Homo sapiens: one gene and its partner. The protein of the gene in region 1 interacts with the protein of each later gene in a biochemical or structural test. Each region holds a gene or a part of one and is shown on either strand. Other genes may lie near its edges. The genes, in order: LACRT and NID1.

Region 1 (4,258 bases):
TCCCCATTCCAGGTAAGGCCACCACCACCTTCAAGGCTCCCAGGCCCAGACCCTCAGGCAGGTAGCAATTGCCAAGGCTTTAATGTCCCACCCCATTAATTTTATCTTCCTTTATCTCCTGAAAAGATTAATGTTCTAAACCCTGGCACCCAAAACACCCTCATGTTGAAAACTCTTCAATACCCCCTTCTCACACTCATCTTCAGAGCTACCATGAGGCAGAGAAGCCTCCGGAATCAGCCCACATGGGGCTGGGTGAATGCCAACACCAAGCAAGGGGAAAGTCACAAATTGACATCCAGCACCTTATTCTCCACCCTTCAGCCCCTCAACTGACTCCTGCTCCACGGCCCGTTCTATTAATATCTAGCATTTAGCACCAGCCTGGACAAAAACCTACTTGGAAAGATGGTACAAGAACCCCACACAACTCCATAGAACTTCGCTGTCTAAAAAAATGCTTTGCCGTATATTATCCCACTTAATCTCCACCACTATGCTGTACATAGGAGCCACAACTCCTAGACAACAAATAAAAATCCTATCACTTTTCAAATCCTAACATTTTCATATGACAAAGCCAGAACTCAAAATCCAGACCTCTAGAGTCCCAGATCAGGAAAGGAAGAAACGCCAAGTCAAAGAGAAGCTTCTTTAGAATAATCTGCTTTTCTGGATTATTCACACCATGGGTCAGCTCCCCACTTGAAGTCAGAACCAAGCTCCAATTTCAGTGAACCACCATCATGCTTTGACCAGGAGATTCTCTCAGAAATGTGGGGTCCCATTGAGTAGGCCTGAAGACAGAGATTGACAGGCCTATGTGAGCCTGGAGGAGTTCTTTTTAGGGGCTGGATAATGTCAAGAACAGAGAACAACTCCAGAGAAGGCACACACGCCTTCAAACCCATCCCCTCATGGGGAGAAAGCAGCCAGGAACTCAGGCCTCAAGTGTTCTAGGTGTGGTCTCCCAAGGAAACGGGCTCACTTAGTTTGGGGAAACCTTCAAACCCTGCACTGAGTCCTATGTAGACTGGGACAGAAGGTGGACAATGTAATCCCCTGAGCCCTCAACCTCCTCCTGGAGAGATGACAAGATTAAGATTTCTCTACCAGAACCCTCAACAGACACATCCCAGAATCTCCCCAAGTGAAATGTGCTCTACCTACCGTCCCTGAGAGCCCAGGGGTGTGAACCCAGAGGGCAGGTGTGGTGGGGAAGGGAGGAGGGAGAAAGAAAAGGGATGGCTGGGAGTTAGAGAAAGGCTCCTATCCAGGACCTGCCTGCAAGGATCCCAGGTATCAGCCAGCCCAACCTAGCCCTTGTTGACTTAGCAGGTGACAGTTTGGGGAAGAAGGGGAGGAGGATGCGGAAGTCACACCTCTCCAGGCTTGGTTCCCATTGGCCCTTGATATCCTTAAAAGGGCCCAGCAATTTCAGCATCCTTATTCCCCAGACCTTCTGCAGATTCTGTGGTTATACTCACTCCTCATCCCAAAGAATGAAATTTACCACTCTCCTCTTCTTGGCAGCTGTAGCAGGGGCCCTGGTCTATGCTGGTGAGTATGGCCTTTCCTCTGCGCCCCACAAGAGTCCTCCCAGTCCAAGGAGCCCCTCACTCCTGCCTTCACCCCTCTCCTCCTCTCTCAGTGCTATTCTGGTTTCCCTGCCTCTGCAAGTGACTCCTCTCCCAGTTCTCCACACGTGGCCTCTGCACCCCACTGGCCAGAGGAACCCAGAACTCTCTGGCCTCTGCCTGCCCTCCCAGCTCATCTCCTCACACACCATTGTTTACCCACTATGCCTCAGCTACACTGGCTTCTCTGGTGTCCCCTGCATGTAGTTGAGCAGGGTGTCCCCTACACGAGGGTGCCCAGGCAAGGAGTGGTAGAAGCTAAAATCTGGCCGACACTCTACTTGCCAAGCAGTGAGCCTGGCCCCTGGCTGTGTCTCTTAGGAGGAAGGGATGCCTTTTTTTTTTTTTTTTTTTTGAGACCGAGTCTCCCTCTGTTGCCCAGGCTGGAGTGCAGTGGCACGATCTCTGCTCACTGCAACATCCACCTCCTGGGTTCCAGCGATTATCTTGCCTCAGCCTCCTGGGTAGCTGGGACTACAGGCTCATGCCACCTTGCCCAGCTAATTTTGTATTTTTAGTAGAGACGGTGTTTCACCATGTTGGCCAGGTTGGTCTCGAACTCCTGACCTCAGGTGATCCGACTGCCTTGGCCTCCCAAAGTGTTGGAATTACAGGCGTGAGCCACCGTGCCCTGCTGGGATGCCTTTTTTGATCCACAGAAGCACTATTTGGGCCATGATGATCCTGCTGTTCCTTGAACATCAGGATCTTCCTTCTTGTCCTTTCCTCGTCTAGAATGCTTTCCCTCTCCCTGGCCCCTTCCCCCAACCAACTCTAATGTCACCTGGCCAATGATTTTTCATCTAGAAAATCTCAGTTTACATATAATTCCCCAAAAAGGCCTTCCATGCACATGCGGAACAAATCAGATCCATGTGCCCTTCTCGCACCAGGCTGCACGTTCCCTTCCAGCACTGTCACACCAGCCATTAAATAATTTCGTAAAAGGACAGATGTAAGCTCTGTCAGGGCAGGGGTCTTGTCTGCCCTCTTCAGCACTGCACCTCCATCTCTTGGCACAGAGCTTTGCATAAATGTTGTGTTGAAAGAATAAAGGGAATCAAGGCTGGGGTCTCAATCCTGCAAATCGCTCAAATATGGCCCCATAACCCCCACATACTGTCCTCCTCCACCACAGAGGAGGTTGAGCCCCTCTGACCATGGCCAGCTCCATGACAGACACCTCAGGGAAGCCTACCAAGCCAGGGGCCAGTCAGGAGGAAGGCACTGTTCCAAGAGACATTACACTTCTCAGAGGGGAAGTTATTTCAAAAGCCACAGGAGTTAAACATCAGAGAGTGCCCCAGTAGACCCGCTGATATGGTGGAAGGGCATGTCCAACCCAAAGGGAAATTGATCCCCTTCTATCCATGAGCATTCCCAGGAGATAAGCTTTGGGAATGGGAGGGGAGGGTGGCTCGAGTAGGTCCGGTTCGGTCCTTGCTCTCATCTGGCATGTTTCCCCCATTGCAGAAGATGCCTCCTCTGACTCGACGGGTGCTGATCCTGCCCAGGAAGCTGGGACCTGTGAGTCCTCCTCTCCCTGCTGCCCTAGCCCTCGTTGGGAAGGTTTAACAGTTAGGGATGTGAGTGGTGGCTGGGAGAAGAAGCCAGTGGGAGGAGATCTGGATTCTGTGCTTGGTGGTAATGGGGAGGGGCAGGTAATATAATAAAGAAGGTGGCATGGGTTGAAATGGTACAAGGCTAAGGACAAAAGAGGATGACCCAGAGAGGCAAGGACAATAGGGAGCATGGGGAAAAGGTTATTGTGAATAAAAGGGAGAGAAACATGAGGTTAAGTGGTAAGGGCAATGTCTCACATGGCATTAATACCTTCACCTGCAAACACCTCCCATTACTCCCAATTCCTTAGCAAGATAACCATTATCTGGCCTCTAACCTCATTTTCCAACCCCATTTTCCATGACTCTCTTTTATGTCGCACCCACATCAGCTAAATTGAACTTGTTTCCATTCCCCACACATGCCTTCGCCTGACCTCTTACTCACTGCCTGCCCCCAGGGAAGCCCCTTTGGTACATCCTCTCCTGCTAACATCCTGCCTTCAAGATCCAGCTTCTCTATGAAGTGCTCCCCGATTCTCACCATCCCCTAGTCCAAATCCTTCCCCAACCCTGCCCGCTGCATTCCAAGAGACACACAGCATGCAGAAATGCTATCTCCCTTAAGGGGGCAGCGTTTAAGCCATATCACTTCTGTATCCTGGCACCCAGCACACATTAGGTATCCTGGGGCCCTGCAACCCATTCCAAAAGAAACAAACACTTTCACTTTGCTAAAATCCATCAATTTGTGCATTCACAGCTAAGCCTAATGAAGAGATCTCAGGTCCAGCAGAACCAGCTTCACCCCCAGAGACAACCACAACAGCCCAGGAGACTTCGGCGGCAGCAGTTCAGGGGACAGCCAAGGTCACCTCAAGCAGGCAGGAACTAAACCCCCTGAGTAAGTCTCTGTCTCTATGCCAGATCAACAACCTAGAAAAGTCTCTGGCTGCAGGCCCACATCACACCTCCACGCACAGAGATAAGCCTGGTGAGAAGCAGGTAGACTCAAACAGCTGAACACAAAGGCACAAATGGGATTGTGCATTGCACCCA
Region 2 (4,412 bases), on another chromosome or scaffold:
TGTGAGTGCAAAATGAATGAATACTTGTAGAACACATGCTGTCTCTGATGGGTAATAAATGTTATTTCTGATGGCGAATGAATTCAAAAGAAAAAGACAAGTTCTCATGAGTAAATCAAAAGTGTTTTGCTTAGAAGGCATGTTTCCTTTGCTTTTTCTTCCTGTCTTTGCTGGTTCAGAACTCATGCCCCCTAAATTTTATACAGAATTTGCTGTTTTCTGAAAAATTATTATAAACTAGGTTCAAGGTCGTTACTTTTAGCTGCTGACAGGAAACGGGGACGTCCTGTTGACCGCTGATAGGTCTGACATCAAACATATCCAACTCCAGCTGTCCCAGATCCTCTTCCCTGACGTCAAAAGGCAGTACTGGTTTTCCAGTCCTCCAAGTGCAAACCCTTGAACTCAATTTTAACTTCGTTTCTTCTCCTCTTCAATGCCAATCTTATAATCAGGATTTGCTCCTTCTTTCATTTCAATGTTTTAGACTTGGTCCTCTAATAACTTACCTGTCTCTACTTTCACCCTAGTGCCAAAGTAACGATCAACCGATTATTCAGGATACCACTTAAATCGCTTATCTCCCTTTGTCAAGAACTTTCAATAGTTTCTTCTCCGAGTGACAGAGCGAATTCAAATTCCTAAATTTGTGATTCAAGGCTGTACTTCAACCGGTCCCTCCCCACATCCTCTGCTGGGGGATGGTGCCCTGAATAAACCCAGCTCGGTCCTCCACCTCCCTTCTCTGCCGCCTGATGACATCCCATTCCTTCCAGAGCACCCGGGTTGATTCCCGCCGTCCCACCTGCAGCTTTCCCCGCCAGTTTTTCCAGCCCTAATGTCTTTGATGACTTGGGGCCCCCATCTGACACTGGCTTGTGTTGTACACTGGTGACTTTGCCTCGGAGGGTGAGACCCCGTTTCCTGGCGAACCTCCACAATAGGGAGCACAGGATCAGGCACTCAAAAAACGCGCAATGAATGGGTGGATGAGCCCATGAACGTGTTGGTGGCTCTGTCCCTTGGCTGATTCCCAGCTCCCACCCCGTCTTCCTACCAGGGTCAAGCGAATTGGACCCCGGACGCGGCCGAGCGGCAATGGGGTGGGCGCCGTTCCTGAATCCGGAGCGTTTCCACGTCGCCGGCTCTCCACGACCCAACCCTAATCAGAGGACCACGGTGCGGGTCCCGCGCTCTGCTCCCCCTCCCGGAGGCGCCGTTCGCTGGGAGTCGGGCTGGTTTCGAGAATCGCAGGCACCGGCGCCCAAGGCGGGAGGTTCGGCTTCGCCCCTCGCCCTCCCCCTCGCGGCCATTGGGCTGCCCCGCGGCGCGCCCGCTGGACGGGGCGGGGCCCTCCGCTCTCCCCTCCGCTCCCCTCCCCTATTTCCCGGGGTGGGAACGCCGGGAGGCGGGAGGAGAGGGGGCTGCCAGGGGCGTCCGGTTACATCCCCGCCTTCCTCTGTCCTGGCCGCGGGACCGGGTTTGCGGGACCGCAGTTCGGGAACATGTTGGCCTCGAGCAGCCGGATCCGGGCTGCGTGGACGCGGGCGCTGCTGCTGCCGCTGCTGCTGGCGGGGCCTGTGGGCTGCCTGAGCCGCCAGGAGCTCTTTCCCTTCGGCCCCGGACAGGGGGACCTGGAGCTGGAGGACGGGGATGACTTCGTCTCTCCTGCCCTGGAGCTGAGTGGGGCGCTCCGCTTCTACGACAGATCCGACATCGACGCAGTCTACGTGAGTGAGCCCCGGGAGGGCGGGCGAGGGGCTGCAGGGCGCGGCGGGCCGGGGGCGCCCGTGGAGCCGGACGGACTTGGGCGTAGCAGGCGGGGACCCGGACCCGCTGGCCGCCGGGGCACCGGGCACGGCGCAGGGTCTCCCGCCTCTGCAGGGTCCGCGAAGGTCTTCCCGACCCGGTCCCTGCTATCCGAAGAGCGGGTCGCGGGGTCTGGGTGGCTCCGCGCGCCCCGGGCCGTGACCCCGGCACCCATGGACCCCGCGGAGCTTCCTCCCCGGCGGCTGTGGGCTGCATCGCCGCAGGGAGGTCAGTCCGCGTCCCTCGGCTGTCCAGTCCCTTCGGGGCTAGGACCTGGCCGGTCCCGGGTGGAGCCAGGTTCTCGCGCGGAGCCTCCGCAGGGCAAGAGCCGGAGCTGGATCGCAGTCTGCGCGCGGGCCCCGGGACTCTTGTGGCTGCGGGAGAGTTTCGCCGGCAGCCTCCTGTATTTGTGTGTGGACTCCGGATGTGTCTTGGCAGTGATGCTGCTTTCCAGTTGGGCTCGTTTCAGAGTCCAGAGTCCAGAGCGGGAAACACAGGGCTCCCAGTGATCCCATTTCCTGTGGCCAGGCATTGTCACCACGGAGGCCCCAAACGAGGAGCGGGACCAGATGACCTACAGCTCCCTGGATCCTCCCCGTGACTGGCCGGGCCTGGGGTCGCTGTCAACTTGTTGAAGTCCTTTCGTGCCGCTGCCTTCCTCGGCCGCCCACCATGTGGATTTCATATAAGGCTTGTGTGCATTCCAGAAGTGTGGGGGGTTGGCCGGGGGAAGGGGGTTGGAACTGCAAACGCAGCGGCTGCAGCCTGTCCTGCCCGTGAAATGGCTGTGCTCCCGGTCTGGCCTGGGAACACTGCGCCTTAGACAACACTCACGTGGAACTTGTAGGCTTTGCCTAAAACGAATGAGCCCTTCAAGTCTGGATCCACAAAGAGCCCTCCCCCATGTTGGTTGACTGCCCTGGCCCCTTTGCACACTGGTGAAGCCTGTGGATCCCTTTTCAGTATAACGCTTTTATTTTAGTTTTTAGAGAGACGAGGTCTTGCTCTGTTGCCCAGGCTGGGTGCAGCGGTGCGATCTTGGGTCACTGCAGCCTCCAACTCCTTGGCTCAAGCTGTCCTCTGGCCTCAGCCTCCTGAGTAGCTGGGACCACAGGCGAGTGTCACCATGCTGGGCAGTATAAAGTTTTAAATGCATAAAATAAAATCCACAAGATGACCAAGGAAGGCAATTATGTTGAAATACAGATCAAAATATTAAAAAAACACACATCTTATGCTCTTATGTACTATATATGCTTATATGCTTACTTTATTTATTTATTTATTTATTTATTTTTTTTTTTGAGACAGAGTCTCTCTCTATCCCCCAGCCTGGAGTTTAGTGGCACAATCTCAGCTCACTGCAACCTCCACCTCCTGGGTTCAAATGATTCTCCTGCCTCAGCCTCCTGAGTAGCTGGGATTACAGATGACTGCCACCACACTTGGCTAATTTTTGTATTTTAAGTAGAGACATGGTTTCACCATGTTGGCCAGGCTAGTCTTGAACTCCTGACCTCAGATGATCTGCCCACCTCAGCTTCCCAAAGTGCTGGGATTACAGGCATGAGCCACCATGCCTGGCCCAATATATGCTTACTTTTTTTTTTTTTTTTTTTTTTGAGATGAAGTCTCACTCTGTTGCACAAGCTGGAGTGCAGTGGCGAGATCTTGGCTCACTGTAACCTCCACCTCCCAGGTTCAAGCGATTTTCCTGCCTCAGCCTCCTGAGTAGGTGGGACTATAGGCACGCACCACCATGCCTGGCTAATTTTTGCATTTTTAGTATAGACGGGATTTCACCATGTTGACCAGGCTGGTCTTGAACTCCTGACCTCGTGATTCACCCACCTCCGCCTCCCAAAGTGCTGGGATTACAGGTGTGGGCCACCACGCCTGGCCTATATGCTTACTTTTAACAACATTAAATAACAAGGTGTAGCAGTGGATCCAAGGGCAGTTCAGGTAACGATTGAACTTTGAAGATCATGAGCAATATTCTGAGACACATGCAGCAACTATGATGTGATATGAAAATATCTGTGACTTCTATTAGTGACTGCTTTGTTGCCTGCATTCATAATTAAAGGAAATGCTAAATATCAGTTTTTGGTTATTCTTTTTTTTTTTTTTTTTTTTTTTGAGACAGAGTCTTGCTCTGTTGCCCAGGCTAGAGTACAGTGGCTCAATCTTAGCTCACCACAACCTCCGCCTCCCAGGTTCAAGAGATTCTCCTGCCTCAGCCTCCCGAGTAGCTGGGATTACAGGCGCGCACCACCATGCCTGGCTAATTTTGTATTTTTAGTAGAGGCGGGGTTTCTCCATGTTGGTCAGGCTGGTCTCTAACTCCTGACCTCAGGTGATCCGCCCGCCTTGGCCTCCCAAAGTGTTGGGATTACAGGCATGAGCCACCATGCCCGGCCATTAGAGATTTCTAAGTAGATGGCTGACACGATTTAACTTTAAAAGATTATCATTCTCTTCAACAAATAAATGGCATGGTGGGGAAAAAGAAGGAGGGAGACCTGGTGTGGATCAAAAGAGACTTCAGAGGCTTGCTGACCAAATGCAAGTGAGGACTTTGTTTCAGCCTGATTAAGACA

The links.
Region 2: the proteins of LACRT (region 1) and NID1 form a complex in vitro, tested with the Homo sapiens proteins (one study listed by BioGRID).

Annotation. Positions count from the first base shown.
Region 1 is NC_000012.12:54,632,086-54,636,343, reverse strand, and holds the start of LACRT (extracellular glycoprotein lacritin precursor), read left to right. Parts: upstream 1-1,448; 5' UTR 1,449-1,502; coding exon 1,503-1,560; intron 1,561-3,110; coding exon 3,111-3,164; intron 3,165-3,962; coding exon 3,963-4,103; intron 4,104-4,258. UniProt on the Homo sapiens protein: Modulates secretion by lacrimal acinar cells.
Region 2 is NC_000001.11:236,062,173-236,066,584, reverse strand, and holds the start of NID1 (nidogen-1 precursor), read left to right. Parts: upstream 1-1,494; 5' UTR 1,495-1,505; coding exon 1,506-1,730; intron 1,731-4,412. UniProt on the Homo sapiens protein: Sulfated glycoprotein widely distributed in basement membranes and tightly associated with laminin. Also binds to collagen IV and perlecan. It probably has a role in cell-extracellular matrix interactions.